Homo sapiens: one gene and its partners. The protein of the gene in region 1 purifies or fractionates together with the protein of each later gene. This does not show direct contact. Each region holds a gene or a part of one and is shown in the gene's direction. Other genes may lie near its edges.

Region 1 (4,509 bases):
CTCCCTTCAATTGGAGTAATAAGTTCTTTGTATATGGATAGATTTTAAAAATCTAGTTAAATGTATTTTTGATCTATTTATTTACAAAACACAATGATTGGCAAGAATCAAATAGTTCTCAACTCAAGGGCTCGGTAGTGGAAGAAGATGGTGTGATACTACTCAGGGAATTGGCTTGAACCTTTTGATTTTCTTTCAGGTGAGGGAATATGTCCAATTAATTAGTGTGTATGAAAAGAAACTGTTAAACCTAACTGTCCGAATTGACATCATGGAGAAGGATACCATTTCTTACACTGAACTGGACTTCGAGCTGATCAAGGTAGAAGTGAAGGAGATGGAAAAACTGGTCATACAGCTGAAGGAGAGTTTTGGTGGAAGCTCAGAAATTGTTGACCAGCTGGAGGTGGAGGTAAGGAGTGAACTCACTTCTTGGTAAATTAATAATAAACTCCCTTCAGTGACTGTAAGCAAGTACTAGTACCAGGAAGTGAAACTATCTCTTCCAACTTCTAATTCTCTACTGTCTCATGGCCACATGGCATATCACTATGTTCTGTTTTGGATAAGGGCATGTGTTTGAATAGTAAGTTAAGCACATTGGGAATGTGCTGACTTAGGAGCAGATGTTGTCTAATGGTCAGAATCCTGCCCCAGAATAAAATGCCCTTTCAACTTCTCTGAAAAGGAGCTGGCATAAAGTTGAACAACGGTTCATGGCCAAGCTATATGAGGTGTCTTCTCTGCTCTAGATTTATCCTCATGGAACTAGAAATCCACAATATACCTGATTGTGGTAAAATTGCTAGGTTTGTTTCTCCTTTTGAATAACCTGGAATCCTTCTCTGCAAACTGGAAACCCCCTTTAAGAAATTTCTTGTATATTTCTGTAAAGCCTTTTAAGATCTGTGGATAAAGACCATCACATTAACGTTATGGTTGGGTAATTTATATCAACAAAAATTTACTAGCACAGTCATGACATGGGCTATAATTGAGAATTCTAGTTACGTATTTTAGAATTTAAGCTTTCTCTGGCCCTCACCATTCATTAGAATCTTAATTATAATACAACATGAGTAAACACAAGTTTATAGGGGAAGGTTATTAGAAATGAACTTTAATGGACATTTGTGGATGCTGAGGATGAGCTTGGGCTCTATTATTAAAGCTATTAAAATCTTTGCCATTTTCTTCTTGTCACACACATCTGCCTGAGATCTGACAGGCATTCATGCTAAACCATAAAATGTATTCTTCCAAATGAAACCATTCAGAAGAATCTCTGGTGTATTCTCTGGCAATGTTTCACTAAATGACAAATTCAGCCCTGGAATGTTTATGAAAGAAATTGCACCATAATATAAAGTCACTCTGAATTTTTATTTCCTTAGATAAGAAATATGACTCTCTTGGTAGAGAAGCTTGAGACACTAGACAAAAACAATGTCCTTGCCATTCGCCGAGAAATCGTGGCTCTGAAGACCAAGCTGAAAGAGTGTGAGGCCTCTAAAGATCAAAACACCCCTGTCGTCCACCCTCCTCCCACTCCAGGTAAGCATGCCAGTTTTTTTAACCACTTGTGCCAGACCCCATAAGGAGCTGTGAGTGGGGTGGGGAAGGGATTGGGGATTGCAATGGTGAAAGAAGAAGGTGGGTTGTTTTTTTTTTTTTTTTTTCAGTTCTCAGTTTTCTCTTCCATGTTTTAAAATTCCCTTCCTCCCAAGTATTCTACATGCTATCATATTCTGGGTTTCAAAGAGGAAGAGCACAAACAATGAGTTGATTTAAAGCAAAATCCACGAGTTACACGTATTCTCTTTGCATTTTCTAACAGGGAACAAAAATCTCTATGGTGATGGAGGCCCTATCAGGGGCCTCAGGGGAAAGCCTCTGGAATCTGTGTGTGGCATCCACTTTCCTGTGGAGTTAAGGACTGATTGGCTCACTTATCTGATGAGCTGGGTTTATGCCTTTGATGCTGCCATCTTCTCTCTCTCCTTCTGTTTCTCTTTAATTTTTTCTTTTTTCTTCCTATAAATGCATGCTGAGCACCTGCTATATTGTGTGTCCTGAGATTCAGTGAGGATTAAAGGAATGACCCCACATATCATGTGCTTGTGGGTGTGTCTTGCCATTCCTCATGGATTGTGAGTTCTTGGAGTAGGGGTGGCATGTTCGTCTTTAATGAATTCTCATTGGGGTTAAGTACAGCACAGAGGTGGGTGTTCTGCAAATATACCCATGAACAGAGGCAGTGGAGTGTAGGGTACAAGAACATAGCTTTAGAATTCCAAAGACCTGAGCTTCTCAGCTAGGTGGCTGCAGCAAAAAGGATCCTTAATATCCTCATTTGTAAAATGGGAGAATAATAGTGCCTGCCTTGCAGGGTGGCTGTGGGGATTAATGAGTCAGTGCTTGGGAAGCTCGGAACCTTATGATCGGCACTCACACGCTGGCAATGGATATTGTTAATAATGTTGATAATTGAAGCGAAAGCCTTGCAGCAAAACAAAAGCAGTGCCAGATTACTGTGCCCTGCAATGCATTCCTTCAGGTAAACTAAAGCCTCTCAGCCACAGTGTTCAGCCCCATCCTTTAGAGATATCAATGACACAGGGACCTTCTCTCTGCAGGTCCTGAGCATCTTAGCCTGAGTGGGGACTGTATCTTTTCATCAAATCATGCAATCCTTTTATTTTTATGAATTCCAATCCTCACACCTGCTTTCTTTTAGACTGTGTTTCTGGATTATTGTCATTGTAACTGATTTTTTAAGGCTTCAATTATTAAATAGGTATAGCCATAGATATAAGCCTCTTGGTCTTCTTCAGGTGGATTTTTTTCCTCCCTCTGCAAATAGGAGTGTGTCCTACTATGACAGGTGTCATCTAATGGTTAGAATCCTGCCCCAGAATGAAATGGCCTTTCAACTTCTCCAGAAAGGAGGTGACATAAATTTGAACAACTGTTCAAATTTCGCATCCTGCATAGGAGGTTTAGGGCAGACAACATGGTCTGTCCTCTGTAATAAACTAAGGCTAAATTTAGTCTGGGATTAGTGGTGCAAAAATGTAGCAAATGAGAGCTGTTTCTGGTGGACCACAGAGGACTCACTGAGGCAGAGGCTGAAGCAATGACAACTCCTGATAATCCCTGAACGAGCTCCCCAACACCCCTTGCAAATCCTCCTCATGGAATAGATTTTTCTGGCACAATTTTCTATGCATCCCTTAGAATGAGGACATTTTAGATGAAGGAATATTCAGGGCCATCTAACTTAGCCTCGTCTTGTCTCAGAGGAGAAGACGTGGATGGTAAGAACGCTGCTTTTCCTGAGGCCACACAAGTAGTTAATGACAGAGCAGAAGCTGCAAGGCAAGGGTCTTTGCTCCCTGGTCAGTTCAGGACCGAAGGTGTCAGGCAGCAGTAATCCAAGGACAACGGTGGGGAGAAAATGCATTGCTTAGTATCCAGGGAAGAAAACAAGTGAGCCTGTTGGGTTGTTTTTGTTGGATTTTTTTTTTCCCAGAACTTTCCCCTAGGCCCTCACACTTAGACTTCTGTGATCCATCCTAGCCCAGCTGTGTTGTTTAAGCAAATTGGACCCAGATTTTTACTCACTTTCCCACAACCTTGGCTGTACCTGAATCCCTGCCAAGCCACTTGGCTCTCTTCCAGCTTTGTTCATATTATATTTATGATGTTTATATTAAACTGACTTTTGGTCATGTTTTTAAATCAATTTCTTTCACTTGCTCTCTTTCTGTTTGGATTGGTTGATAATGCAGAATTGGAAAATCCCCAAGCACCACAAACTTGTGAGCCTGTGGAGACTTTAATTAAAGTTATTCTCTATTATGGGACTTTAAAATCTGGCCTGTCTGCTTTTTTCACTGCAGAGTTGCACAGAATAAAAAAGACTATATGCAAGTCTCAGCTCTAAAGTAACTCTGCGCTCTCTGGGCCCCCTCCCTTATAGCTACAGTTTGCTGACCCAGTGGTCAGCTTGAACTTAGAACAAGTGAATGTATCCCAGGTTCAATAAAATATGCTTCCTATTTGGTTTTTGCTACAAACAACGTCCTTTTTCTGCCTCATTTCATAGAACTTTCTAATCTAAAATAATTGGCCTTCTACTCATTAACTTTTTTCCCTTAAAACTTCAGTCTGTCTCTGTTTTGCCTGTGAATCTAAATGACTGTATATAGGCCAAATGTGATCGGGTGCTCAGGGGTTGATCTCCAGTTTGCTTGGGGATGCAAGGTTCTGTGCTGGTCCATAGTGATGCTCAGTAAGTAGCTGATGATTAAATGGGGTCTGAAAGAAATGGGGTGACCTGCTAAAATCTCAAGCTTAGGGAAGAGCCACATGTTGAACAGCATATATCCAACACTTCAGAGTCAATTTAGTCTTAATCATTTTATGACTATGATTGTTTTAATTGCCTAATTCTTATAAGTCAATCATATTCTCCTCCTGGCTCAAACAAAGTTCAGTTGCCCAGTT
Region 2 (4,509 bases), on another chromosome or scaffold:
CGTTCCTCTTCCGGGAAATGGAATAATTCCTTCTATTTTCTGGGATTCTCTAGAGGGGTTTTTTTTTTTTTCTGAGACGGTATCTTGCTTTGTCGCCCAGGCTGGAGGACAGTGGCACATCTCGGCTCACTCCAAGCTCCGCCTCCCGGGTTCATGCCATTCTCCTGCCTCAGCCTCCCGAGTGGCGGGGGACTACAGGCGCCTGCCACCACGCCCGGCTAATTTTTTATATTTTTTACTAGAGACGGGGTTTCACCGTGTTAGCCAGGATGGTCTCGATCTCCTGACCTCATGATCCAGCCACCTCGGCCTCCCAAAGTGCTGGGATTACAGGCATGAGCCACCACGCCCAGCCTCTCTAGAGGATTAAGTAAAGCTGTGTCTGTGACTTTTTTAGCAAATCAAGTACCAGCTTCTTGGTGTTTTCCTAAGATCAACAGCCAGGAATAAAGACAGCAGTGGATTTAAAAATAGTGAAGATCGTCCATTTTATGTGGTGTGTATTCTACCACACTGGGGCAGGCCAGGTGCAGCGGTTCACGCCTGTCATCCCGGCACTTTGGGAGACAGAAGTTTTGGGAAGATCAGTTTGTGAGATGACACTCTGACAAAGCTGGAAGCTGTGGCTCTTCCCAGCTCCCGACTAGAAAGAACACAAAGCAAAGAGCCCCAGGAAGCAGGTACCCACAGCCTTGTTTATCAGGGAGTTTGAGATCAGCCTGGGCAACATAGCAAGACCTCATCTCTACAAAAAATACAAAACAATCAGGCAGGCGTGCAGGCTCACGCCTGTAATCCCAGCACTTTGGGAGGCTGAGGCGGGCGGATCACAAGGTCAGGAGATCGAGACCATCCTGGCCAACACGGTGAAACCCCGTGTCTACTAAGAAACACAAAAAAATTAGCCGGGCGTGGTGGCGGGCACCTGTAACCCAGCTACTTGGGAGGCTGAGGCAGGAGAATGGCGTGAACCCGGGAGGTGGAGCTTGCAGTGAGCCGAGATGGCGCCACTGCACTCCAGCCTGGGTGACAGAGTGAGACTCCATCTCAAAAAAAAAATAAAAAACAATGAGGCAGGCGTGATGGTGTGCACTTGTAGTCCCAACTACTTGGGAGGTGGAGGTGGGAGGATTGCTTGAGCCTGGGAGGTTGAGGCTGCAGTGAGGGATTTTTTTTTTTTTTTTTTAAGACGGAGTTTTGCTCTTGTTGCCCAGGCTGGTGCAATGACGGGATCTTGGCTCACGGCATCCTCCACCTCCTGGGTTCAAGTGATTCTCCTGCCTCAGCCTCCCGAGTAGCTGGGATTACAGGCATGCGCCACCACGCCCGGCTAATTTTGTATTTTTAGTAGAGACGGGGTTTCTTCCTGTTGGTCAGGCTGCAACCTCCATCTCCTGGTTTCAAATAATTCTCCTGCCTCAGCCTCCTGAGTAGCTGGGATTACAGGCACCTGCCACCATGCCCGGCTACTTTTTTGTTTTAGGTAGAGACAGGGTTTCACCATGTTGGTCAGGCTGGTTGACCTCAGGTGATCTGCCCGCCTCGGCCTCCCAAAGTGCTGGGATTACAGATGTGAGCCACCACGCCCGGCCTGCAGTGAGCTTTGATTGTACCACTGCACTCGGGGTGAGACCCTGTGTCCAAAAAAAAAAAAAAAAAAAAAAAGTTGAGGCAGTTCCCAGATAAACAAAACAACAGGCCAGGCACTGTGGCCCACGCCTGCAATCCCAGCACTTTGGGAGGCCGAGGTGGGCGAATTGCCTAAGCTCAGAAATTCGAGACCAGCCTAAGCAACATAGCCAAACCCCATTTCTACAAAAAATTTTAAAAGTAGCTGCTTGTGGTGTCGGGCGCCTGTGGTTCAGCTATGTGGAAGGCTGAGGTGGGAGGATCGTTTGAGCCCTGGCGGCGGAGGTTGCTGTGAGCTGAGATCGCGCCACTGCACTCCAGCCTGGGCCACTGAGTGAGCTTCCCTCTCATAAAAAGAAAAAAAAAAAAACAGGCTGGGCGCGGTGGCTCACACCTGTAATCCCTGCACTTTGGGAGGCAGAGGCGGGTGGATCACGAGGTGAAGAATTCAAGACCAGCCTGACCAAGATGGTGAAACCCCGTCTCTACTAAAAATGCAAAAATTAGCAGGGTGCGGTGGCGGGCACCTGTAATCCCAGTACTCGGGAGGCTGAGGCAGCAGAATCGCCTGAACCCAGGCGGTAGAGGTTGCAGTGGGCCATGGGCCAAGATCACACCACTGCACTCCAGCCTGGGTGGCAGAGTGAGACTTCATCTCAAAAAAAAAAAGAAAAAAAACCAAAACAAAACACCAGAAGCTGGCGGCACTCCTGGGCGCCCAGCTGTGAGTGGAGTCTCCCTGTCCCGCCTTTGGGCCTTACCCGTGCTGCGCCTGCTGCCTGCATCCCCCTTCCCTGGGTCTCCGCACGTGGGCCCTGCCTCATTTTCCCGGTCCCAGTTTCTGCGTCACCTCCTGAGAGGGGCCTCCTGTCAGCTTCCACGCAGCTCTGTCACGGGTAGATTCTCTCACGAGTGGAAGTGGCTCTCAGCTGCACTGGAATGTCCGGTCCACACGGACGGGGCCTCGGCTGTGCTGTCCACCCTGTATTTCCAGTGCCCAGTAATAGGTGCTTAGAAAATACTTACTGAATGAGTAAGTATACAGTTGTACCAGGCAGGTGATGTTATTATCCTTTTTTTTTTTTTTTTTTTACAAGGAGTAAACTGAGTCACAGAGAAGTGATGTGACTTGGCCAGGATCATGCAGCTGGTCGGGGTGGAGCCAGGCTTTGAACCTGTCTGTCCTGCTCCAGAGCTGGTATTCATGACGGGTGTGCTGCAACCCCCTCCTTCTCACACAGAGAACCAGATGGTGTCTGTGTGTTACGCGCTGGACACCTAATTCACGATCCCCGCCGAAAACCACTTCGGGAGCATTATGAATTCCATTGTGTCCTCCACCCCCAAGGATAGGTTGGGATCCTGAACCCCCATCCCTCAGCATGTGACTTCATTTAGAGGTGGGTGTTTACAGAGGTCCTGAAGTGAAAATGAGGTCATTAGGGTGGGCCCTAATCCAGTGACTGGTGTCCTTATGAAAAGGGGAGATTTGCGCACAGAAACAGACGTGCTAGCTGGGCATGGTGGCGCATGCCTGTGGCCCCAGCTACTTGGGAGGCTGAGCAAGAAGACTGCTTGAGCCTGGGAGGTTGAGGCTGCAGTGAGCAGTGATTGCGCCACTGTACTCCAGCCCAGGTGTCAGAGGGAGACCCTGTCTCAAAGAAATATAAAAAATAGGCCAAGTAGACTGAGTGTGGTGGCTCACGCCTGCAGTCCCAGCACTTTGGGAGGCTGAGGTAGGTGGATCACGAGGTCAGGAGTGTGAGACTAGCCTGGCCAACATGGTGAAGCCCCGTCTCTACTAAAGATACAAAAAATTAACCCGGTGTGGTGGTGGATGCCTGTAGTCCAGCTACTTGGGAGGCTGAGGCAGGAGAATTGTTTGAACCTGGGAGGCAGAGGTTGCAGTGAGCCAAGATCGCACCATTGCACTCCAGCCTGGGTGACAAGAGTGAAACTCCATCTCCCCCCCCCAAAAAAAAAAAAATAGGCTGGGGGCAGTGAAATTGCAGCACTCTGGGAGGCCAAAGCAGGAGGATTGCTTGAGTTCAAGAGTTTGAGACCAGCCTGGGCAACATAGTGAGACCATGTCTGAAAAATCTAAAATTAAAAAAGGAAAAATGAAAAAAAAAAAAGAGACAGCTCCAAAGGGAAGAGGAAGGGAAGAGGGAGAGAGGAGATGGTCACCTGTGAGCCAAGGAGAGAGACCAGAGCGGATCCTCCCTGAGGGCCCTGAGAGGGAACCAGCCCTGCCCACACCTTGATCTGGGACTTCCAGCCTCTGGGACTGTGATTTTTTTTTTTTTTTTTGAGATGGAGTTTTGCTTTTATTGCCCAGGATGGAGTGTAATGATGCGATCTCGGCTCACTGCACCCTCTGCCTCCTGGTTTCAAGCGATTTTCCCGCCTCAGCCTCCTGAGTAGCTGGGATTACAGGTGCATGCCACCACGCCTGGCTAATTTTGTATTTTTAGTAAAGACGCGGTTTCTCCATGTTGGCCAGGCTGGTCTCAAACTCCTGACCTCAGGTGATCTGCCCACCTCGGCCTCCCAAAGTGCTGGGATTACAGGCGTGAGCCACTGTGCCCGGCCAGGTCTGTGAGGTTTTAAACCACCTGTCTGTGGCACTTTGTTACGGAACCCGAGCTGAGTGGTACAGGGAGGAAGGCCCTGTGGTTCAGCGCATTTTACAGCTGAGGAAACTGAGGCTGCAGTCTCCATCTGTGTGTCCTTTGGTTGCTTGTATGAGTGAGGTGGCAGGTTTGGGAATGAAACCACGCCTGCGGTGCCGGGGCTCCCACCGGTAACCTCCCGTTTTTGGCCTCGGGGCTCCGGCAGGAAGGAGTCCCAAGGCTTAGATGGAGGTGCGGAGGGCGTGTG
Region 3 (4,509 bases), on another chromosome or scaffold:
GGTACTGTTGGTGTTTGATGAACAAGTGAATGAACGAGCACACTGATTGCATCTGCTCACCATGCAAGGACTGCTGTGAAGAGCAGTCAGATGTCACCTCACCCATCTGTGTCATGTTTTAACAGTTCATTAAGCACTCAACCCCATTTCACTCATTGACCCTTAAGGTAGCCTCCAGTGGCAGCTTTTCCTGTCTCCTTTTTCCAGATGGAAAAACCAACATTCAGAAAAGTTAAATAACTTGCCTGTAGCTACAAAGCCAGAAGGTGGCTGAGCCAGGATAAACTTTTTTGGCTCTTTTTCTCTGTAGCTCATGAGACTGAGATTGGCATGAGCTGGTGTTCGTTCTCCTATTTTCTCTGATCTCTCCCTTTGCAAGGGCCCAGCAGTGCTTTTACATCTCATCTTCAAGAATGAATCCTGGGCTTGGATAGTACTTATAATTTGGCTAGATGAGCTTTGTAGCTACCAAGGATTCTATTTGCATCTTTAGAAGTTTTGCCTCAAGAAACCTGAGAGCCCAGGAAGGCTCTTGGGTTGGCCAAGCTCACTAGGCAAATCTTTTTTTTTTTTTTTTTTTTTTGAGACGGAGTCTCGCTCTGTCACCCAGGTTGGAGTGCAGTGGCGTGATCTCGGCTCACTGCAAGCTCTGCCTCCTGGGTTCACGCCATTCTCCTGCCTCAGCCTCCCAAGTAGCTGGTACTACAGGTGCCCGCCACCACACCTGGCTAATTTTTTGTATTTTTAGTAGAGACAGGGCTTCACTGTGTTAGCCAGGATGGTCTCGCTCTCCTGACCTCGTGATCCGCCCACCTCGGCCTCCCAAAGTGCTGGGATTACAGATGTGAGCCACTGCGCCTGGCCGCAGATCTTTAACAGAACCTTTAAGAGTCTGGACTTAGAGCTAAGTGTTGGGTGAGGGCAGCCTCTTGGGCTGGTTTTCTCCCCTGTGAAGTCATGGCTCTGCAGGGCCTGGTTTTTTGGGGCTTGTGTGGTGACCATTAAATCCCCACTGTGGGGGGTTGTTTCACAAGAGGGAAATCTGGTGCTCCTCCAGATGGCCTGATATGAAGGAGTCACGCCTCCCGCCTCCCGGAGCTGCCCAGTGGCTGCCTTGTCCTTCAAGTGCAGGAGCTGGTTCAAATGTCAGGAATGGAAGCCACTGTGGTAAGGGGCATTCCCAGGGCAGGGGTATGGTGGGGAAGGTTGGGTGCTGGGCCTGCTGAAGTACTGTAAAAGGTTCTGAGACTCTCCAGTTGAGCACTCCTTTCTCCAGAGGCCTGGAATTGGAGCAAGGCCACCGTTTCACTCCCTCCCCCTAAGAAGAACCAACTATGATCCTGGGGCACTTCAGGAGTCAGTGTATGTCTGCCTTTCTGTACAGAGGACGGGAAGGAAAGCCTGGATAATCTCTACACTCAGCTACTTCCTCTCCCCTTCCCTGACCCTCCCAACATTGACTGCCTTAGCAGCAGCAGGTATTCCCTTGGGTGGCTGGCCAGGGTGTAGGCTGGCAACTGGGGAACCTGCCCTCACTATAATTGAGAGTTGACTTGCCCCTAGAGAGTGCCCTGTCCCTAGGTTTGTGGAATTCAGTCTCCACAAACCTAGAGAGGAGAGGACAAGGACAGTAGTTGGATTCATTCTCTGGGGTTGTAGCTGTCTCCGTCTCTTTGCTCCAGACCATCCCAATCTGGCAAAACAAGCCACATGGGGCTGCTCGAAGTGTAGTAAGAAGAATTGGGACCAACCTACCCTTGAAGCCGTGTGCCCGGGCGTCCTTTGAGGTGAGTATGTTGGAAGGGCAGGAGAGTAGAGGCTCAGACAGTGCTGCTTCTGTGCCCCAAACCCCTTGGTACTGCCCAAGTAGGTTGTTTCCTGGTCACTTTTCATTCTGTTATGAAATATTTGTTAAATGCTTATAAGATATCCTGGTCACTGTGTCCTCCTGAGTGCATACAAACCTGTGACCACAAGGAACCTGACAGGTCCCCCACATGGGACACTGACTATTGTGATTTTTGAGTTGAACTCTGCTTTTCTTCACCAGCCCTAAGAATTGACCATGTAGCCAGTATTTTTATTTTATTATTTTTTGAGATGAGGTCTCCCTATGTTGCCCAGGCTAGGTCTTAAACTCCTGGGCTCAAGCAGTCCTCCTGCCTCAGCCTCCTATGTAGCTGGGATTACAGGCACAAGCCACCATGCCCAGCTCCACTATTTTTAGTGTTTCTCTGAGGCCATAATTCCTCAGCCTTCTCTTTTTGGCCAATCTGGGCATCCTTTACTGGGGTGCTTTGGTCTTACCTCTGTGTCTAGGGATCCTTTAGCACCCACTCAGCAGCAGAGATTCCTACCTGGCCCAGGTCTCTTGAGACCCCTTCTGTGGTAGAAAGCTAAGTAGCATTTATTAGTCCCAGCTGCCTCCCTCTAGGAACTAAATGGTTAAGCACCAGCCCCAAACTATATGGTTCAGATGTGTGCATTTGGAGAGCTGGGATACAAAAGAAATACTTGTGCTTTCTACCCACACAGAGGAGATAGAAATATGTGCATGAAAGGATGTGGGCCCAGGTAGAAACAGAAATGAAGGAGCCAAATCTGTATAAAAGATGCTAAGAAGCAGAGTCTGTAGGAACTGGATCTGGAATTAGAAGAGGTGTCAGGGTTGGTATTAGGGTCAGGAATGGAGTTGGAAGTGTCGCAGGGGTAGGGGGCAGGAAAAGCTGTCCCAGTATTCAGATTGCCAGCTATCCAGAATTGTCTAAAGATCCTGGGCAGGAACTGGTCCTAACTTGCCTCAGAAGCATCAGAAAAAAAAAAGGGAGACAGCTAGGGAGTGTGGCTCACTGCATAGAGGCCGTCCCCACACTTGGCTATACCCTCTTCAGTTCTTTGGCCAGATGCTGGGCAGAGACAATCAAGGGCACAGGCTCTCACAGAGCAGGAATGTATGTGAGCAGTATTGGTAATACTAGATAACATTTACTGAGCACATACTATGTGTCAGGCACTGTGCTGTACTTTATATTTGTTTACTCATTTAATTGCCAAGAGCAAAGGAGCATTCAGGGCTAATCAGGAAAACAAATGGAGGCTTCCCCCAAATGCCCTATTTTAGCACTAGTTCCTGGGTCACTGGAAGTTCTTCTCTGTGTGACCTTGGAGTATCACTTAACTCCTGTGAGTCCCAGGTTTCCTATCTAAATGCAGGAGCGATCAATCCTGGATCCATCTACCATACCAAATAATTTGTAGCAGAAACAGTTGAATCTTACTTGTGTGTAAATATGCATTTATTATTATTATTAAATTACCTTAAATATTATTTAAGGGACTCTTACCAATTTATTTTGAAAATTTAAGCATATGAAAATATTAAAATTATGAAAAGTAAAAGGAAAATAAATTACCTATAATTACATAGTAATAATACAATAACTATTAATGTCTTAGTGTAGTCCTCTTTTTCTAGATGGATGTTTTTTACTTTGTTGTAATCACAGTCAACATGACTGAATCCTAATTTTTCACTTTACTCAACATCTCTAGGTTGAGGAGCTATTTTAAGAAATCCTATTATGGTTCCTTTTGTATAATCATTTATTTTTATTTAAATCTAAATATATTCAAATTTTCAGGTTTGTTTAAAACAGCATTGCTGTAACAATGTAGATCTCAATTAGCTATACAGGATTATAAAAAGCTAGTCAGGAAAAATTTCCTATTGCTGTAACAGGTTGTGGATGACCTTGTACTTGTATTTTCACCAGAGGGCACAGTGGTTTTAGACAGTTGCCATCTCTACTAAAAGGTGACTCAGGCCTTTTCCACTGAAGACACAGAACTGTTTGTAATCCCATAGACTCTCATGTGTCTTGCCTGTTTTTGTTTTTGAATGTGGCTCTGTTGTCCACGCTAGAGTACAGTGGTGCAATCTCAGCTCACTGCAACCTCTGCCTCCCAGGTTCAAGCCATCTTCCCACCTCAGTCTCCTGAATAGCTGGGACTACAGGCGTATACCACCATACCCAGATAATTTTTGTATTTTTTGGTAGAGGCAGGGTTTTGCCATGTTGCCCAGGCTGATCTCAAACTCTTGGTCTCAAGCATTCTGCCTGCCTCGGCCTCCCAAATGCTGGGATTACAGGTGTGAGCCACCATGCCTGACTGTCATCTGGCCTCTGTTCAATGTTTTCGACCAGGAACCTTCTTCTGCCCCCTCTAGGAAGCCTTCCTGACACCCAGTGCCGGATTAGGTACCCCTCCTGTGTATTCTGCAGTTTCTGATTGGCTCATCATGGCATCTGTAAATGTTGATGACTTTTGCTTCTCCATAGACCCTGCCCAACATCTCTGACCTGTGTTTGAGAGATGTGCCCCCAGTCCCTACCCTGGCTGACATCGCCTGGATTGCTGCGGATGAAGAGGAGACATATGCCCGGGTCAGGTAGTTGAGGCAGTAGCTGGTCTGCTAAGGAATGGAGAACTTCCCAGAAGAGGTGGCAG
Region 4 (4,509 bases), on another chromosome or scaffold:
CTGGCTCTGAGAACGGCTTCAGCCTCGCAGGTGAGTAGGGCCTCTGAGAAGGCCGGTAGTCAGCATTGCTTTGGCAGTGGTGCTCCTTGGGGCACTGTCTTTAGGCCTTTACGCAGTGACAGAGGAATCACTTGTTTAATGTACTAGAGCCACATGTGTGTAGTTTTCTGGCCACAGGTTGTTGGGAATGGTTTGACCTCACATCACTGATTTTTGAAAGGCAGTGATTTCGTCTAAATGTTCTCCCAGCTGTTCTGAGAAACAGGATGATTCCATTCAGAACATTTGTGTCCTCTTACCCCAATTTGTTGCAGCATATTTGTCAGGCTTTTTAAATTATGCACAGATCTGTCAAATGCAAAAATGGTACTTGGGGCACCTGGGGATGATTTTACTTCATGGGGAAGGGGTGCTCTTCTCCTCCCAGCTCCACAACCTATAATAGTATAGGCCGGTGCACCCCAGACTTGAACCTGCACACACATCACTTGGAGGTCTTGTCAAAATGTAAATTCTGGTTCAGCAGGCCTGGGGTGGGGTCCGTGATTTTGCTTTTCTACCAAGCTAGGAGGTGAGGTACCAGTGTTGCTGGAAAGGCCACCCGTTGACAACAAGGATTTAGAAGATACTTTTTGGATTCTCACCTTCCAACCTGAAAACTTGTTTGCTAGAGGTTTTATCTTTATTGCATTAAAAATAGTTTTGTGAGAAGTTCTTTCTCCATCTTTAACTGCAGAGCTCGGTAGCTGTTAATAGGTTCTTGCTTTAATCAAAATTTGAATAAAGCCCTTGGGTCAAAAGTAGATAAAAAATGGCACACCTGGATAAATTTGTATTTCAGATAAACAATTTTCTAGTATAAGTATTACCCACATATTTCATGAGACATACTTATCTGAAATTCAAACAAAACCCTGAATGTCTTAGGTGGTAGTTTATTTGTTTTTGTTTTTTTGTTGTTAGGTTTATTTGTTTGTTTGTTTTTTGCTAAGTCTAGCAACCTTAGAGAAAAGTCAAGGACGTTCCCAAGAGTATTTCTCACAGAATACAAGCTTGTTCAAAGAGAAGCTGGGTGAGGTAAGGCAGGATGAAACCATATTCTTCAATGGAAAAGTTTGGGAACTTATGGAATCAACAGCTGATAGTGCTTACTCTCAGATATCAGATAATCTCCTTAGGCACGATCTCCAACAGCAGTAGAAATTGGGAGCGGGCAGTATATACTGGTAACTGTTTAAGCAAGACCTCTTTTCATCCCTGTGCTGAATGTTTTTCATCTCCAGGTGCTGCCTTTACCCATGACATGGAAGTTACATTCTACCCGGGAGAGGAGACGGTTCGTATCACTCAAACTGCTGAGGGACTTGACCCAGAGAACTACCTGAGCATTAAGACCAACATTCAAGGCCAGGTGCCTTACGTCTCAGCAAATTTCACAGCCCACATCTCTCCCTACAAGGAGCTGTACCACTACTCCGACTCCAGTATGTATAACCAGTCTTCACATCTGTAAAATGGGGATTATGCCCATCTCACAAGATAGATACAAGGCTTAAATGACTTACATGGCATGTCCTTAGAACAGTGCATGGAACATAAAATGAGCTCTATTATGTTATTACTCTTATTGTTACCATGAAATATATCGTGTAAGTGAGCAGAATGGCTGCTATACATAAGAATATCTATATCCCTACATAGTATTTTCAAATAATAAAATCAATAGCAACATTGTCCATGGGGTGGGTAGGGATGGTATAATTATATACAGTTTTTAACCATCCTACTTTCTGCAACATGGAAAAATAGTGATTATTGGAATTTATATTTATCTCAACCTTGTTTCAGCTGATGAGTTCAGGCTGCTTTAAAAAAAAAAAAAATCACAGAAAGAGGCCAGGTGCAATGGCTCATGCCTGTAATCCCACCACTTTGGGAGGCCAAGGTGGGTGGATCACCTGAGGTCAGGAGTTCAAGACCAGCCTGGCCAACATGGTGAAAACCTGTTTCTACTAAAAATACAAAAATTAGCAGGGTGTGGTGGCACGCTCCTGCGATCCCAGCTACTTGGGAGGCTGAGGCAGGAGAATCATCTGAACCTGGGAAGTGGAGGTTGCAGTGAGCCGAGATTGTGCCATTGTACTCCAGCCTGGGCGACAAAGCAAGACTCCATCTCAAAAACAAAACCAAAAAACACAGAGATGCTATAATTTATTATAAAACTAATGCTAGATTTGGAGTCAAAAGATAAGAATTTATATCCTGGACTTGCCATTTAATATCTATAGGGAAAGGCCTCTTAATATCTGAGAATGTATTTTCTCATCTTTCACATGGAACTAAAAATGCTTTTTCTATATTATGTGATCAATGTGTGCGAAGCGTGATGTGTTCTGTGAAAGTACTACCTGCGCACAGGATGCTGCCTCCATCACAGCTGCTGTTGTGCAGCACAGCAATCCGGATTGAGTTGTGCCTTTCCTCTGACCCCTGCTGCTCCTATGCTGAGAGCTGGCAGCCTGGCAGGAGATGTAGGGAAGACAAGGGGAAGCAGAGACCTGGGCTGTGAACAAAATGGTCAGTGTCCGGATCACTGACCTGAGCTTGACTCCTAGACTCAGATGGTGAGAGACAACCCTTTCCCTTCTCTGGAATCCTTCAGATTTACTGAAGTGCGAGGTGTTGGAAGTCGTCACTTCTGTGAAATGTAGAAGATGGATTGGTTTAAAATTTAGGGTGTAGAGTCAAACCAATGTGAGTTTCAGTTCCAGCTCTACCATGTGGCAGCATTGCATCTTAGGCTACTTAACCTTTGTGAGCCTCTGATCACATGATTTAGTGCCCACCTCACCAGGCTGTTGTGAGGAATAAATGAGGCAGTATGTAGAGAGCACTGTTGGCATGGCTGGCCCTTAGTAACACTTATTCTTTGTGTATAATAACATGGACAATTGTAGTGCCTTCTCCCTCTCAGCACTGTGGCTTTGCATCCACTCAGGTTTTTGGGATTTCCTTACACATTTTTTCATATAAACTCAGGAGGTTCCCAAGGGAACACACTCCAAGAATTAGATGAAAAAAACTGCAGAAAAATCCACCTCACATGAAAATCTCTGTATTTAATATTTTTAAAAAATTACCACTGTGTTTGTTGCAGCTGTGACCTCTACAAGTTCCAGAGACTACTCTCTGACTTTTGGTGCAATCAACCAAACATGGTCCTACCGCATCCACCAGAACATCACTTACCAGGTGTGCAGGCACGCCCCCAGACACCCGTCCTTCCCCACCACCCAGCAGCTGAACGTGGACCGGGTCTTTGCCTTGTATAATGACGAAGAAAGAGTGCTTAGATTTGCTGTGACCAATCAAATTGGCCCGGTCAAAGGTAAGGTTTCCTTTTTTGTTGTTGGGTAAAAATGACATCCTTTTAAGTAGAGTTAGAATGATTCACAGAGGTTACTAAGGGTTACCTAGTGCCATGCTGTGTTATGTGCTAGGTATAAGGATGAATAGAGCAGATCCTTGCCCTTGAGTTGGAAACAGAGGCAGAAAAGAGTTTTAGGGCAGGGAACAGTGTCCCTGCCAAAGTCAGGAAATAGAGCATAGTATGTGAAGCTGGTTTATAGCAATACCCAACTGTGCGTGCCAATCAGGAATATACCTGTGAACAAGGCAGACTGGAATTAGGAGGGAGAGTGATGCTGACAAGTATTTGTTACAAGTGTGATGAGAGCAGGGCACTGTGAGTCTAGTTTGAAGATTCAGAAAAGATGTCCCCAAGAAAGTGACATTTTAGCTAAAACAGATGAGAAGAATTTCATCCAAAACTAAGGTGGAGCAAAGAGCTAGTATCTGGAAAAACCAAACATCATAGAACTTGATGTATAACCTCCCCCTCCATGATTCCCAGAACATTATACTTAATGGTGAAAGACTGGATGCTTTTCCCTGAAGCTTAGGAACAAGACAAGGATGTCTGCTGTTGCCACTTTTATTCAATTCAGTACTAGAATTTCTAGCCAGGGTGATTAGGCAAGAACACAAAATAAAAGCCATCTAAATTGGAAAAGGACAAAGTAAAATTAGTCTCAGATGACATTTTGTGTAGAAAATCTCAGGAATTCACTAAAACACTATTAGAACTAAAGAACAAGTTCGCAATGTTATAAGATATGCAAGATCAGTACACCAAATTGTATTTCTCTATAGTAGCAATGAGCAAACTAAAGATTAAGAAATTGTTTCAAAAAGAGATAAATTTTTAAAAAGAAGTGCAGTACTTGTACATTGCATCCCACAAAACATTTTTGGAAAAAAATTTAAGACCCAGTTAAATGGGAAGATGTTCCACATTCATGGATTGGAAGACTTAATACTGTTAAGATGTGAATACTTCCCAAATTGATCTATTAATTCAACATAATCCCTATCAGAATCTCAGCTGGCTCTTTGAAGAAATTGGCAAGCTGATTCTAGAATTTATATGGAAATTCAAAGAACACAGAA
Region 5 (4,509 bases), on another chromosome or scaffold:
GCTACACAGAGATGAAGGAAAGACCCTGAAACGTGGATGGGAAGACCCCTGGGGGGGCTTACCCCATGGAAGGAGGGGGAGGAAGAAATGGGGAGGTAGAAGAGTTTGCTGTATCTTTATTTCATAAATGAAAAATATTTTAAATTCATGGCAAACTTTAATACTTGATAAATATTATATATATATACACACACACACATTTTTTTTTTTTTGAGATGAAGTCTCACTCTGTCACCCAGGCTGCAGTGCAGTGGTGCGATCTCGGCTTACTGCAACTTCTGCCTCTCAGATTCAAGTGATTCTTCAGCCTCAGCCTCCCGAGTAGCTGGGACTACAGGTGTGCACCACTGTGTCCAGCTAATTTTTGTATTTTTAGTAGAGACGGGGTTTCACCATGTCGGTCAGGCCGGTCTCAAACTCCTGACCTCAAGTGATCCACCTGCCTTGGCCTCCCAAAGTGCTGGGATTACAGGCGTGAGCCACTGCACCCGGCCAGGTGGTAGGTGTTTTAAGAATATATGATGTGCGGTACTTTTCAGTTTGTTTGAAATGTTTATTTACGATAGGTTTTAAAAAAATTAAAGATAATATTTTTATTGCAAGCAAATCAAACATTAACAGTAAATATAAGTAAAGTTAACGCATTGTGCGAAGGAGACTTCCAGGAGGTCGTGCTCTGCAGGTCCTCTAAAGCAGACAGCTTTTAGCCCATCATGTTGTGTGGTTCTTGAGGCTCTGAGGTAGATGGCCTCCCACTTCACAGAGGGGAAAACTGAGGCTCAAAGAGGGTAAGTCGTTTGTCTAAGGGCACAGTGTAGGTAACTGGCAGCCCTGGGATTGGGTCCCTGGGGTCTGGGTTGTCCCTTGCCCCAGGCCCTCTTCCCTGTTGGGCATTGCCGGGGCCATCTACCTGGCCTGGATGAGCTTCGGTGTCCCCAGCAATCCCATTGGGTGCTTTCTGACAATTCACCAGGCATTCGTGGAGCCCCCACAGGAGCCTGGCTTTGTCCCGGGCACTGGGGCTGTGGCTGGGGTGCAATCCCTTTCCCCATAGGCTGATTGGGAAACCGACATTGACAGCCTCTGGTGGCCTGGGGGTGCTGGGATCCCCAGAAGGTGCATTCTGGTTTTGAGCTTTGGAGGTGGGCTGGCCTGGAGCAGACCTGCTGGCACTGTGGGCATCTGTGGACAGCCCTCCCACACCCCTTGCCTGGCTCATGCCCCCTGCACATGCAGTGTCAAGTCCGCCAGAAGATGCATCGGGACTCCTCCCAGACTAAAACCAAAGCTTCGAATAATGAACCTCACAACAAACCATTTTCCAGTGGACTGGAGGGGTGACACCTCCCAGATCCAAGGAGCCCAGTTTGCTCCCCATCCCCAATCCCATCCCGCCGGCCAGGGGAGCTGCTGCCCGGGGGTGCCGTTTCTCTGGCTCTTCAGGAAGCCATTTGCAATGAGCAGGGCAATAGCCTCTCCAAGATGCCAGTGTCTTAATCTCTGGAACCCGTGAATGTGTCACCCTCCAGGGCAAAGGGGAGTTACGACTGCCCTTGGAATCACAGGTGCTAATCAGCTGGCCTTCCAATACGCGGGCTCTGTGTAGCAGGGTGGTCCCATCGGTCCTTATAGGAGAGAGCCTTTTTGAGCTGTGGTTGGAGCCATGTAAGCACAGAGCACAGAGGGGTGGAGATGAGTGGGGCCACCAGCCCTGGGATGTGGGTGGCCTGGAGAAGCTGCACAAGGCAAGGAAGGGATCCTCCCCTAGAGCCCCCAGTTGCATTTACCTGCTAAGACTGGTGTTGGACTTCAGAGCCACAGAGCTATAATCCGCTTGTATTGTTTTGATAATTTGCTTGGTTAATTTGTTAAAGCAGCGATAGGAAAGAATACATCTTTGTTGGCAAAGTGATTTTCTTTTTCTTTTTTCTTTTCTTTTTTTTTTTTTTTAGAGACAGGGTCTCACGCCATTGCCCAGGCTGGCGTGCAGTGGTGTGAGCATGGCTTACTGTAGCCTTGACCTCCTGGGCTCAAGCAATCCTCCTGCCTGAGCCTCCCAGGTAGCTGGGACTATAGATGGATGCCACCACACCTGGCTATTTTTTGTAGAGACAGGGCCTCCCTATATTGCCTAGGCTGGTGTCGAGCTCTTGGGCTCAAGCTATCCTTCCACTTTGGCCTCCCAAAGTACTGAGATTACAGGCATGAGCTACTGCCCCCAGCCTCCTCAGAGTGCTTCCCTCATCCTGCTAAGGAGCTGGGACACAACCATCTGGGGGCCGGCTCAGGAGTTGCAGCCTTCTTGGCTCCAGGTTGATCACAAGGCAGAAAAAGGTCTGAGGTGCAAACCTGCCCTGCCACCATGTGGGAAGCTATTAGCTGCTTATCACCTCCGGGGCCTGCGGTTGGTCCCAGGAAGCACCCAAGGGGAGCAAGGGGCTATTGAGAAAGGTCCTGGCGAGGGGATAGCAGCAGCCCCACCCCCAAATTAACCCTCTAGTGCCAATAGCTTCTTCCTCCTTACCTAGCCTAGCTTGAAATTTATGTTCATTTTACTTTTCAAGGGAGAAGGCAGGTCAGTGGGGTTGGTGGCCTTTTTAAGACAAGGCTTCCTGACCCCTGGCGGGTGTCCTGGGGCCCCCGGATGGACCTCAGTGGGTCTGTGTGGCCCAGAGTGTGTAGGGATTCCGTATATTTTCTTTTCTGACAGTGGATCCATTTTTCCAGGTTTCTCAAAGGGGTCTTTGATCTCCCAAGTCAAAAACCAACCAAATTCCTTCATTTGTATTCGAAGCCTCTTTTATGCTGGACTCTTGAAGGCTAGGATTCAATGTCGAACACCCACACAAAGGCTGCCCTTGGGGGTGTTAATTTAGGACAGGAAGGAGGGGGTTGCCATTCACATCCATACATAGTAACAGACCCAGAGTCAGGGTGGTGCCTAGGGAACGCAGCCCATCCCGAGGGCTGCAGACAACATTTCGTGGCGAGCGAGCTGAGAGCTCTGGGTCCAGTGGGTGCCCACGAGGCCAGGCTGGTCCGGAGAGGATGCTCTGGGCTGTGGGACCTGCAGGGGCAGAGGCCTGTGCTGTGGGGTTTCCTGGCGCCTTTGGGGAGTGGGGAGGAGGCTGTGGGGGCTGAAGCAGGGGAGGGGAGTGAGGGTGGGCGGGTCAGGCATTCTCTTGGGAGTCACGTCTTGAGTTTGAACTTCATGCCAAGCATGTTCAGAAGTCTTTGCAGAGATTCAAGCTGTGGTGTGGGGTGCAGGTGATAAGATCATTCTGGCTGCTCTAAGAAAGGTGAGGAACAGGGTGGGTGCCGAGGGGGTGCTCAGAGGCCGGAGACTCCTTAGAGGATGTGGCAGATCATCCAGGCAGGAAGTGTAGGCAAACTGCATCCCGGCAGAGACTTCCGTGTCTTGGAGCTCCATCGGGTGCACCTGGGTAATGAGGGGGAGAGGAACTAGGCATCGCGGGCTTAGAATTCACTCTGATTTTCCCCACCGCCTCCTCATCAAAGCCCCACCAAGTCTCCATTTACACAGCCCCCAGGACGGGGCTCTCACTGTTTCCCGTGGCAGAAATTCATTGCTGGGAACCTGCCTCCTTCCCGCGGATGGCTCGTGGCCCTGTTTGCAGCTCTTCTAAAACCTGCCTGGAAGTTAAGAAAAAAATAAAATAAAAATACCGAGGCCTGGGCCCCACCCTAGGCTTAGGCCAGAGTCCTTGAGTGTGAGTGTGTACGCCTGTGTGCCTGCCCCTTTGAATCGCTCGTCCCCCCGGTTTTGGGCTGGAGCCCTGCCGTGGAGCCACACAAGTTGAATCTCTCGGCAGCCCTGTGTGTGCTGGGGCGGGGGCACATGCTCCGGCACGCTACCCCACGCGGAGCTCGCTTTCCTGCCCGCCAGCCCCCTCCCCCGGGGCTTCACGTGCTCTTCAGATGGTGCGGTTTGGGGTTGAGAAACTGGGTCCCTGCACTTCCTTCTCCCCACCCACGTTTGGACCCAGCTCCCTGGTAAGCAGCCGCCTTTGCCAGATGACCCGTGGAGGCGGGAGCTGAGCCTAAGCACCAGTCCTGACTTGTCTGCGGCCCAAGCAGGGGGTTGAGGAGGTGGATGAATCCCGGTGCTGGCGTCAGGGCTGTCTCCTGCTCACTTTCTGTTGCTTGGGGGCGGGTGGGGCAGGCTTGGACGGACAGGGGAGCTGGGAGTCCCTCCTTCGTTTCCTTTCCTTGTTTTCCTGCTAATAAGTCCTAAGGATACACAGGAGCTCCGGCCACTTTCTGCTGGGACAGCCGTGATCAAAGAGCCCTGGAAGCACAGAGCAGGGTCTGGAGTCCCTGGTGGCAGGGCCAGTGCCCACGCCTCACTCGTACACCATAACTAGCTTCATGAGCTGTGCTCGGCCTTGGTCTGTTTGGCCTTGGGTTTGAACTAAGTTATGCCAAATGTCGTGGCTTTACTTTAAGACAGGGTTGGGGAAAGTAGCACTCAGGCCACTCCTTGTCCCT
Region 6 (3,898 bases), 1.7 Mb from region 1:
AGACCAGGTTGACTGTAATGTGTGTGGACTATTATCAGAGAGGAGCAAGAATGAATGTAGGGAAACCCTAATGAATTAATGGACTTATCAATTATATATAGTGGTCATACTTACAGCATGTTAACTGAAGGGAAACAAAATATTATATGACTCCTGATGGAAGTATCCAATACTGCCTTTGAAGTTGTCTTACCCAAAAAAAAAAAAACCAAACACCAAAATTGAACATCAATGTAATCAAACCAATTTATAGGAAATACAGGGGACAGAGAAACATGTGGGATACCGTTAGTAAAATCCAGATTGTAGAAAACTCTACAGGACAAAGAATCTGTTGGGTTTTTTTCCTGGAAAAAAAATATTTTTTCCAGAAAAATAAAAGGGGTACGGAAGGATTTTACAGATTCAAATGTAGTTTAAGAGATATATAAGCCAGTTGCAATGTATAGGCCTTAACTGTACTCAGAATCAAACAAAATCAAACTTTTCCACAAACAGAAAACATGTTGGAGAGTATGGACACTGACTGTATATTTGATGTTATTAAATAATTGTGCATGCACAGGAATCAGTTGGGAAACCCGGGGAACAGATGCTGCTGACCTGACAGTGGGGTTTCAAGAAGAATATGTATTTGAGAAATACCTGGACATACCACTGAAGGACTTGGTTACTGGTCAGATGTTGGGACCAGAGCAGGGGAGGAGTCAGACGTATGTCTTGAGAGACACTGGGTGGGTGGAAGAAGAAATGATAAATGAGTTTAGTTTAGAAGTGCATATTAGGTCATCAAGTGGAGATCCTAAGTTAGAAGATGAATATTGAGTTTGGGCTCAGGAGAAGAGGATTGGGCTAGAGGGGTAGTATGAGAGGCAGGTTACTGCCTATTGCACTGAATAAAATCTCACCAAGGCAAAAAGAAGAAAAAACGCTCAGAACAGAACCTTGAAAGTGCCAAAGTTAAGAGGAGAAAGCAGAAAAGGAGATTGAGAAGGAAGAATTTTAGAGCTAGGAGAAAATAGGGGAGAATTTAATGTCATGGAAGCTAAAGGGCAAGATAATTGAGTGGGTAGTTGTCCCAAATACTTTAAAAAAAAAAAAAAAACTGTTCAATCAAGAGAAATGGAAAGATTCTGTGGTCTTTGGCGATCTTAGCAAGAGCAGTTTCTGTGGAGTAAAGGGGCAGAGCCTAACAAGGGGTTATGGGAGGAGTGAGAGGTGAGAAAATGGAAACAATGGCTATGAGTATAAACGACCAGTTAAGTTTAGTTGTAAAAGGAAGATGGGAAAAGAGCATGGTATCTGGAAGAGTTCACAGGGTTTTGAAAATGGTGATTTTTCTTTGTTTTTAATATCAGAGATGCTTGAGCATGTTTCAGTGCTGGTGGTGGAACCAGTAAAGAGGGAGAGGTTGAAAATAAAAATGAGAAAAGGCATACTCAGCACAAAATTACTGAGAACGCAAGAGGGAATGGTCTAGAGCATAGATGAAAGAATGCTCCCTCCATTGACACTGAATGTGGGGGAAGTGGGGCGAGGGTGTGTGCAATTTAGTTAGAGGAAGGTAAAGGAAGTCCCTTAATCATGGCTTTGCTTTTCTTCCGAGCTCTGTGAGGTAGAAGGTGAAGTATACTGCTGAGACGGAAGGGGATATTGGGAAAGTCAGAGGTTTGAAGAGAGTGAGGGAGTTTAACAATCTCTGTGGGAGAGAGAGAGAAAAGATTGTGATAAGGTTGCTAGACAGTGCCTGGGATCCAAGTAGAGATGGTGATTGTGACCACTCTGTAGAGCTGGGCCCTATTTCTCCAGCAGCGCTCATGATTCCAAATGCAAGTCTGGGGCAAGCAGATAGTGAGTCAAGAGATGGGATTTTGCTTGGCAGATGTTATGGGAAGACAGTAGAATAAGAGAAATTCAGACATTAGTAAAAGTGATATATCACTTTTACTTACAGGGATATAAGCCTGATACAGAATTGGCTACTTAGAAGGGATATGGTTAATAGGAGGAAGAAAGTAGAGGAATTGCTAGAGTCAAAGTCTGGCTGAGTTAAGGAGCAGTAGCGGGAGTACTGTGAAGATGATACTCCTCCATCTCTGAATTTGTCTGGATGTGAAAGGCGAAGGTGTAAGTGTAAGTTCTTTAGAGAGAAGCTGGGGAATGGGGAGGCCAGGTTCTTAACAGGTGATCTGCTTAAACACTGAAGTCACCACAGCACTTCTCAGACTTGAATATGCATGTGAATCACCTGGGAGGTCTAGTTAAACTACAGATTCTCATTTATTCAGTCTGAGGCAGATGAGCATTTCTAGCAAGCTCTCTGTTGGTGGTACTGCTGCTTGTCCACACACCAGACTTCGAGTAGTAGTAAGAACCAAGAATGAAGTCAGAAGGGCTTTGGGGGTGGAATGTGCATGGCAGATGTGCTTGATAGCAATAACTGAAGCATACCTTGAGAATGACCCTGCTTGCAGACAACACCTGCATGCGGTTGGGAGTTCTGAGCTAGGGAATAGGGTGGCTAACCCAAAGATCCATTCCCTATCTATAAGGAACATCTGTGCCCCTAACCCATTGTGAAGTGAATGCAGGCCAGACAGGGGATTGAGGCCCTTTGTTTTGGGTTAAATGAAGGTTGCCAGGTGGAGGTTGTTAGGGGGAAGAGTGCTAAGTGAAAATACGATATAAACTGTATACTTTTTGCAAGCAGTTGCCATTTTTCTGCCCAGCCTGCTGCCACTGGGCCGTGCAGTTATCCTGTCCAGCCCACCACCATTGGACTGTATGTAAGGTGCTTCTCCTGCCTAGCTTGCCACCACTGGGCTTGCTCCCCTTTATGTAGCCCCCAACAAAACGCCTTGTCTTGTTTGCTGGCTCTGGGTCTCTTCTTTGGCTTCTTGAACTTGGTGCCATCCCCACTGGAGTTGATAGGGGCTCAGCACAACAGAAGGAAGGCTATGAACTGGGTGCCAGAGACAACAGTGGCTTACAGGCTTGTACCCTGGAGATTGGCCTAAGATAGTGATAAGGAGAGACAGCGTGAATGGCATGGTTGAGTCTCACAAGAGTGCAAGGGAGTAATTTTGCAATAGCACTAGGAAGTGAAGGAATCAGTGACTCCATGTCCTTTTATGCCTATGGAGATTGTGCAAGAGAAAGCAATTTCTACTTTTGGTCTGGAAAGGAGAGCAGTCTCCATACAGGAGAGCTGGGTTTCAGTTAAAGCATAAGTTGTTGTAGAGAATATTCAGTAAAGAGGAGTTTGCAAATCATGGAATCGAATTTAGGAGAGAGTCAGGAATTTGGGGGATTTGTGATGAGTGTATAGGGGAATATGGGTAAACTAAGTTTATAGTTTGGACAGGAAATGAGGACAGTAGAGATGAATTCAGCTGGGATCCTGGAGGTTGGTGAGCAATCAGAGAACTTAAAATTCAGCTGCTTTCTGTGGGGCAAGTCTAATAATCTGGTGTTAAGAGGAAGGCTTGCGAGCTTTCAGTTTTAGTAGTCTAATAAGCTGAAGTGGGCACCAGGTTGCTCTGCACTGGTAAATAAATGATGACTAGATTCTCTAGTTAGAAGGTATACTGTAAAACATTACCTGTTTGGTGGTATGTTCCCTGCAGAATTTGGAACAGTTAAAGGCAGAAATATAAGTGGAAAGTAAAAACTACCCAGTGTTTACTTTTGCCTCTAAATGATACCAGATGTATAAGGCATATGTGTGAGTTAGGGCTCTCTAAGGTAGAGATAGATGACCGTGATAATTTTGATCATAGATATTTCATTGAAGTATCAAGAACCTACTTGTTTCAATAAAATTGCTATAGAATAAACCAGAAAACTAAAAACTACTTGAAATTGGCTTTATTTTTTCCTCCAAGGGTAAAAATTGTAA
Region 7 (4,509 bases), on another chromosome or scaffold:
CTCTGTCACCTAGGCTGGAGTGCAGTGGTGCAATCTCAGTTCACTGCAACCTCCGCCTCCCGGTTTCAAGCATTTCCTGCCTCAGCCTACCGAGTAGCTGGGATTATAGGTGTGTGCCACCATGCCAGGCTACTTTTTGTATTTTTAGTAGAGACGGAGTTTCACCATGTTGGCCAGGCTGGTCTCGAACTCCTGACCGCAAGTCATCTGCCTACGTCGGCCTCCCAAAGTGCTGGGATTACAGGCATGAGCCACTGCGCCCAGCCTTCACAGCAACTTTTAAAAACTGTTGAATATGTTTCACATCACTCAGTCTGGATCTTTTTCATATGGTATCATTGCTGTCCTCCTGACTTCCTTGTAAGAGAATGTTTCCATTATGCCCCATTCTCAATTTACAGATGAGGAAACTGAAGCTTAGCAAGGTTAAGTGACTTGATCTGAGGTGAATTGCGATAAAAACATATCACACTGCCTGTAACCCCGACATGTCCTAACATTTTTCTCTATCAGTTGGTACCATAAGTTGTACTAGTGATTAAGAGCGTGCCTGTAATGCCAGCTGCTTGGGAGGCTGAGGCAGGAGAATCGCTTGAGCCTGGGAAGCAGAGGTTGTGGTGAGCCAAGATCATGCCACTGCACTCCAGTCTGGGCGACAGAGTGAGACGCTGTCTCAAAAAAAAAAAAAAGGAATAAAACAAAACAAAAAAAGAAAAGAAAATGATAACATTTGGATAGCACACTGGCACTGGGCAGGCTGGATGAGGATTGTGCTCTGTTTTCTGTGTGAATGCTGGCCCTGCCAGTGGACAGCTTGGTGGGAAAAAAATACATTTTTTATATAATCATAAAAATGTCATCAAGAATCATACTGTTAATACCAAAAGCAAATAATCATACTTTTATTTTATTTTTTATGTTTTTTTGAGATGGACTCTTGCTTTGTTACCAGTAGAGACGGGGTTTTGCCATGTTGGCCAGTCTGGTCTTGAACTCCTGACCTCAAGTGATCCGCCTGCCTTGGCCTCCCAAAGTGCTGGAATTGCAGGCGTGAACCACCATGCCCGACCAAATAATCATATTTATAAGTAACACAAGAAAGGTGGTAATTATACTTTATTTAGGAACATCTAATACTAGATGATAGAAATATTGATAGTGATGGAAAAGACAAAAATTACCTCGTTAAATAAAGTAGGATATATGCATACTTAAGAATTCTGGCTGTTTAAAAGATAAAGTAGTATCATATAGAAAGATTATATGGAAAAACTGTATTGTGTGGAAAGACTATTAGATGGAAAGATCTTCAGATTTGCTAACTGAAAGCAGGCATTTGCCACTATGCCCCACTAATTTTTTTTTTCAATAGAGATGAGGGTCTTTCTATGTTGTCCAGGCTGGGCTTGAACTGCTGAGCTCAAACAATCCTCCCATCTTGGCTTCCCAAAGTGCTGGGATTACAGGCGTGAGCTACCACACCTGGTTTTTTTTTTTTTTCTTTTTAACAAGAGGGAAAAATAGTCTCAGCTTGGCACTGGTGAGTCTGGAGGGCTACGTTCTCTACCTACTGACCCCCGGATAAACGTGTGGCAGTGAAAACAACAACCACCTTTTGAGAGGCCTGCAAGTGAAGCATTGTCCTTGGGAGAGCCAAGTATCAAGGCAGGAGCTTGGACAATTGATCCCAGGGAGAGGTTGTTAGGGGAGTGCTGATCACCCAGGTGGGAGTTTCAGAGAATGTTGTGGGAAATTTGATGCTACGGCAGAGGAAGGATGAGGGGAATGAAGTCAGTGGGTGTACAGGGACATCTGTGGGTGACAGTATGGGAGATGAGGGATTAGCGAATACAGAGATCTGCTTTTGAGTACTGATGAATTGGTGATTTTAGGCCTAGATGATATTGGTGGATGCATTGAGGCTCAGAGAGGTTTTAAAAAATTCTTCAAGGTCATATAGCTAGGTAGTTGTTGAGCCAGAGTAAGAATGTCTGCTGGTTATAAAATGGTAGCTGTTTTCTCTCTGGAGTTGTTGAAAAACCTATGAGCAGAGGCTCCTGAGTGCTGGGAGGGATGACTGACTGCACCCCCTTCTCCTTTTTCCCTCCCCCCTTCTCTTCTCCCCTCTGAAGCACATTCTTTTTCTCTCCAAGTGATGTGTTTTCTTTCACTGTGTGCTTGTATCCATTGCAGGCACTCAGTTTCCAGGGAAGTTAGGCAGATGGAAATTGTTGAGTGAAATGTCCAGACCTGGTTCATTCCAAACCTCACATTTTTTTTGTTGTTGTTGTTGCAACATGAGTACTTTAGAAGAAAGGAGACTGGTGGTCTGTTTCGTGTTTATTTAAACTGTGTTTATTTAAATTCGACCCATTCACATTTGTTATGAGACGTTTATGTCTGGTCAGATTTCTACCGTCTTATTTTTTATTTATTTATTTTTTGAGATGCAGTCTCGCCCTGTCACCCGGGCTGGAGTGCAATGGCGCGATCTCAGCTCACTGCAACCTCCGCCTCCTGGGTTCAAGCGATTCTCTTGCCTCAGCCTCCCGAGTAGTTGGGATTACAGGTGCCTGCCACCATGCCCAGCTAATTTTTGTATTTTTAGTGGAGACAGGGTTTCACCATGTTGGCCAGGCTGGTCTCGAACTCCTGACCTAGTGATCCGCCCACCTCAGCCTCCCAAAGTGCTGGGATTACAGGTGTGAGCCACCGTGCACGGCTCTCTACCATCTTATTTTATATTTATTATTTATTTTGTTTCCTCTTATTCCCTTATTTATGTTTTGCTAACTTGATGAAGTTTTTAAACAATCCTCCATCGGTAATTAAGTTATGTTGGTAATTGTATTCATATTTATATCAAACATAATTAATTCTGTATTTATCACTTTACCAAAGTTAAATAATGACTATTTTGTAACCTACCCTTTCAAAATGAAACCTTTAGCATGCTTTCATGCTTTTGCTTTTCCAACCCCCATTACTTGATTCCTGGATTTTATTGAAATAATTTGGTATTTCAGTTCTGAGCTATTTCCTTATGATATGCTTCTTCGATTTTAAGAATCCTTTTTTTGTTGTTTTTTTGAGACAGGGTCTCACTCTGTCGGCCAGGCTAGAGTGCAGGTGTGATCATGGCTCACCACAACCTCCGCCTCCTGGGCTCAAGTGATCTTCCTGCCTCAGCCTCCTGAGTAGCTGGGACAACAAACATGTGCCATCACACCTGGCTAATTTTTTTTTTTTTTTGAGACAAGAGTCTTGCTGTGTTGCCCAGGCTGGAGTGCAGTGGTGCGATCTTGGCTCACTGCAACCTCCACCTCCTGGGTTCAAGCAATTTTCCTGCCTCAGCCTCTCGAGTAGCTGGGATTACAGGTGCGTGCCAACACGCCCGGCTAATTTTTGTATTTTTAGTAGAGACGGGGTTTCACCATGTTGGGCAGGCTGGTCTCAAACTCCTGACCTCAAGTCAGGCATCCGGCTAATTTTTGTATTTTTAGTAGAGACGGGGTTTCACCATGTTGGGCAGGCTGGTCTCAAACTCCTAATTTTTGTATTTTTAGTAGAGATGGGGTTTCACCATGTTGGCCAGGCTGGTCTTGAACTTCTGACCTCAAGTGATCCACCCGCCTTGGCCTCCCAAAGTGCAGGGATTATAGCTGTGAGCCATCGCTCCTGGCCTCAGTGATAAGTTTTAGTAGATTTCCGTAGATTTCCTGCCCACCACTGTTTGTTTCCTTTAGCTTGGGATCTTTATTCTGATTTAATTTTTATTTTGCCAGTAGTTTTATCCAAAAGGAAACACAGGGCCAGGCGTGGTGGCTCATGCCTGTAATCCCAGCACTTTGGGAGGCCAAGGCGAGCCAATGACTTGAGGCCAGGAGTTTGAGACCAGCCTGGCCAACATGGCGAAACCCCGTCTCTACTAAAAATAAAAAAATTAGCCAGGCACAGTGGTGCACGCCTGTAATCCCAGCTACTCCAGAGGCTGAGGCAGGAGATTTCCTTGAACCTGGGAGGTGGAGGTTGTAGTGAGCTCAGGTGGCACCACTGCACTCCAGCCTGGGCAACAGAGCGAGACTTTGTCTCAAAAAAAAAAAAAAACAGAGAGAGAGAGGGAGGGAGGGAGGGAGAGACGAAAGAAAGGAAGGAAGGAAAGGAAAGAAAGGAAAGAAAGAAAGGCAAGTGGTAATCTTTGCTCACCTGAAAATGTCTTTTTCTTACTTTCACAAAGTAAGAGTGATCTGTTGGTTAGAATTTTATCTCTTTATCTTTAGAGTTCAGAAATTTCATCAGGATATGTCCAGGGTATGTCTTTTTGGTTGTTAATCTTTTTTTTTTTTTTTTTTGAGACAGGGTCTCTGTTGTCCAGGCTGGAGTGCAATGGTGCCATCATAGCTCATTATAACTTTGAATTCCTGGGATCAACCAGTCCTCCCGCCTCAGCTTCCTGAGAGCTAGGACTACAGGTGCATGCCGCCACACCTGGTTAATTAAACTTTTTTT

The links.
Region 2: the proteins of OLFM4 (region 1) and RDH13 purify together in Homo sapiens (affinity purification with mass spectrometry; 2 studies listed by BioGRID and IntAct, with this or other methods). This does not show direct contact.
Region 3: the proteins of OLFM4 (region 1) and MTFR1L purify together in Homo sapiens (affinity purification with mass spectrometry; 3 studies listed by BioGRID and IntAct, with this or other methods). This does not show direct contact.
Region 4: the proteins of OLFM4 (region 1) and NID2 purify together in Homo sapiens (affinity purification with mass spectrometry; 3 studies listed by BioGRID and IntAct, with this or other methods). This does not show direct contact.
Region 5: the proteins of OLFM4 (region 1) and BMP7 purify together in Homo sapiens (affinity purification with mass spectrometry; 3 studies listed by BioGRID and IntAct, with this or other methods). This does not show direct contact.
Region 6: the proteins of OLFM4 (region 1) and INTS6 purify together in Homo sapiens (affinity purification with mass spectrometry; 3 studies listed by BioGRID and IntAct, with this or other methods). This does not show direct contact.
Region 7: the proteins of OLFM4 (region 1) and GNL3L purify together in Homo sapiens (affinity purification with mass spectrometry; 3 studies listed by BioGRID and IntAct, with this or other methods). This does not show direct contact.

Annotation. Positions count from the first base shown.
Region 1 is NC_000013.11:53,041,711-53,046,219, forward strand, and holds part of OLFM4 (olfactomedin-4 precursor), read left to right. Parts: intron 1-199; coding exon 200-412; intron 413-1,394; coding exon 1,395-1,554; intron 1,555-4,509. UniProt on the Homo sapiens protein: May promote proliferation of pancreatic cancer cells by favoring the transition from the S to G2/M phase. In myeloid leukemic cell lines, inhibits cell growth and induces cell differentiation and apoptosis.
Region 2 is NC_000019.10:55,049,220-55,053,728, reverse strand, and holds part of RDH13 (retinol dehydrogenase 13 isoform 1 precursor), read left to right. Parts: intron 1-4,509. UniProt on the Homo sapiens protein: Retinol dehydrogenase with a clear preference for NADP. Oxidizes all-trans-retinol, but seems to reduce all-trans-retinal with much higher efficiency. Has no activity toward steroids.
Region 3 is NC_000001.11:25,821,962-25,826,470, forward strand, and holds part of MTFR1L (mitochondrial fission regulator 1-like), read left to right. Parts: exon of another isoform or gene 1-1,057; 5' UTR 1,058-1,143; coding exon 1,144-1,167; exon of another isoform or gene 1,168-1,645; intron 1,646-1,682; coding exon 1,683-1,787; intron 1,788-4,340; coding exon 4,341-4,450; intron 4,451-4,509. UniProt on the Homo sapiens protein: Mitochondrial protein required for adaptation of miochondrial dynamics to metabolic changes. Regulates mitochondrial morphology at steady state and mediates AMPK-dependent stress-induced mitochondrial fragmentation via the control of OPA1 levels.
Region 4 is NC_000014.9:52,037,626-52,042,134, reverse strand, and holds part of NID2 (nidogen-2 precursor), read left to right. Parts: coding exon 1-30; intron 31-1,283; coding exon 1,284-1,484; intron 1,485-3,157; coding exon 3,158-3,388; intron 3,389-4,509.
Region 5 is NC_000020.11:57,178,938-57,183,446, reverse strand, and holds part of BMP7 (bone morphogenetic protein 7 preproprotein), read left to right. Parts: intron 1-4,509. UniProt on the Homo sapiens protein: Growth factor of the TGF-beta superfamily that plays important role in various biological processes, including embryogenesis, hematopoiesis, neurogenesis and skeletal morphogenesis.
Region 6 is NC_000013.11:51,369,513-51,373,410, reverse strand, and holds part of INTS6 (integrator complex subunit 6), read left to right. Parts: intron 1-3,898. UniProt on the Homo sapiens protein: Component of the integrator complex, a multiprotein complex that terminates RNA polymerase II (Pol II) transcription in the promoter-proximal region of genes.
Region 7 is NC_000023.11:54,532,693-54,537,201, forward strand, and holds part of GNL3L (guanine nucleotide-binding protein-like 3-like protein), read left to right. Parts: intron 1-4,509.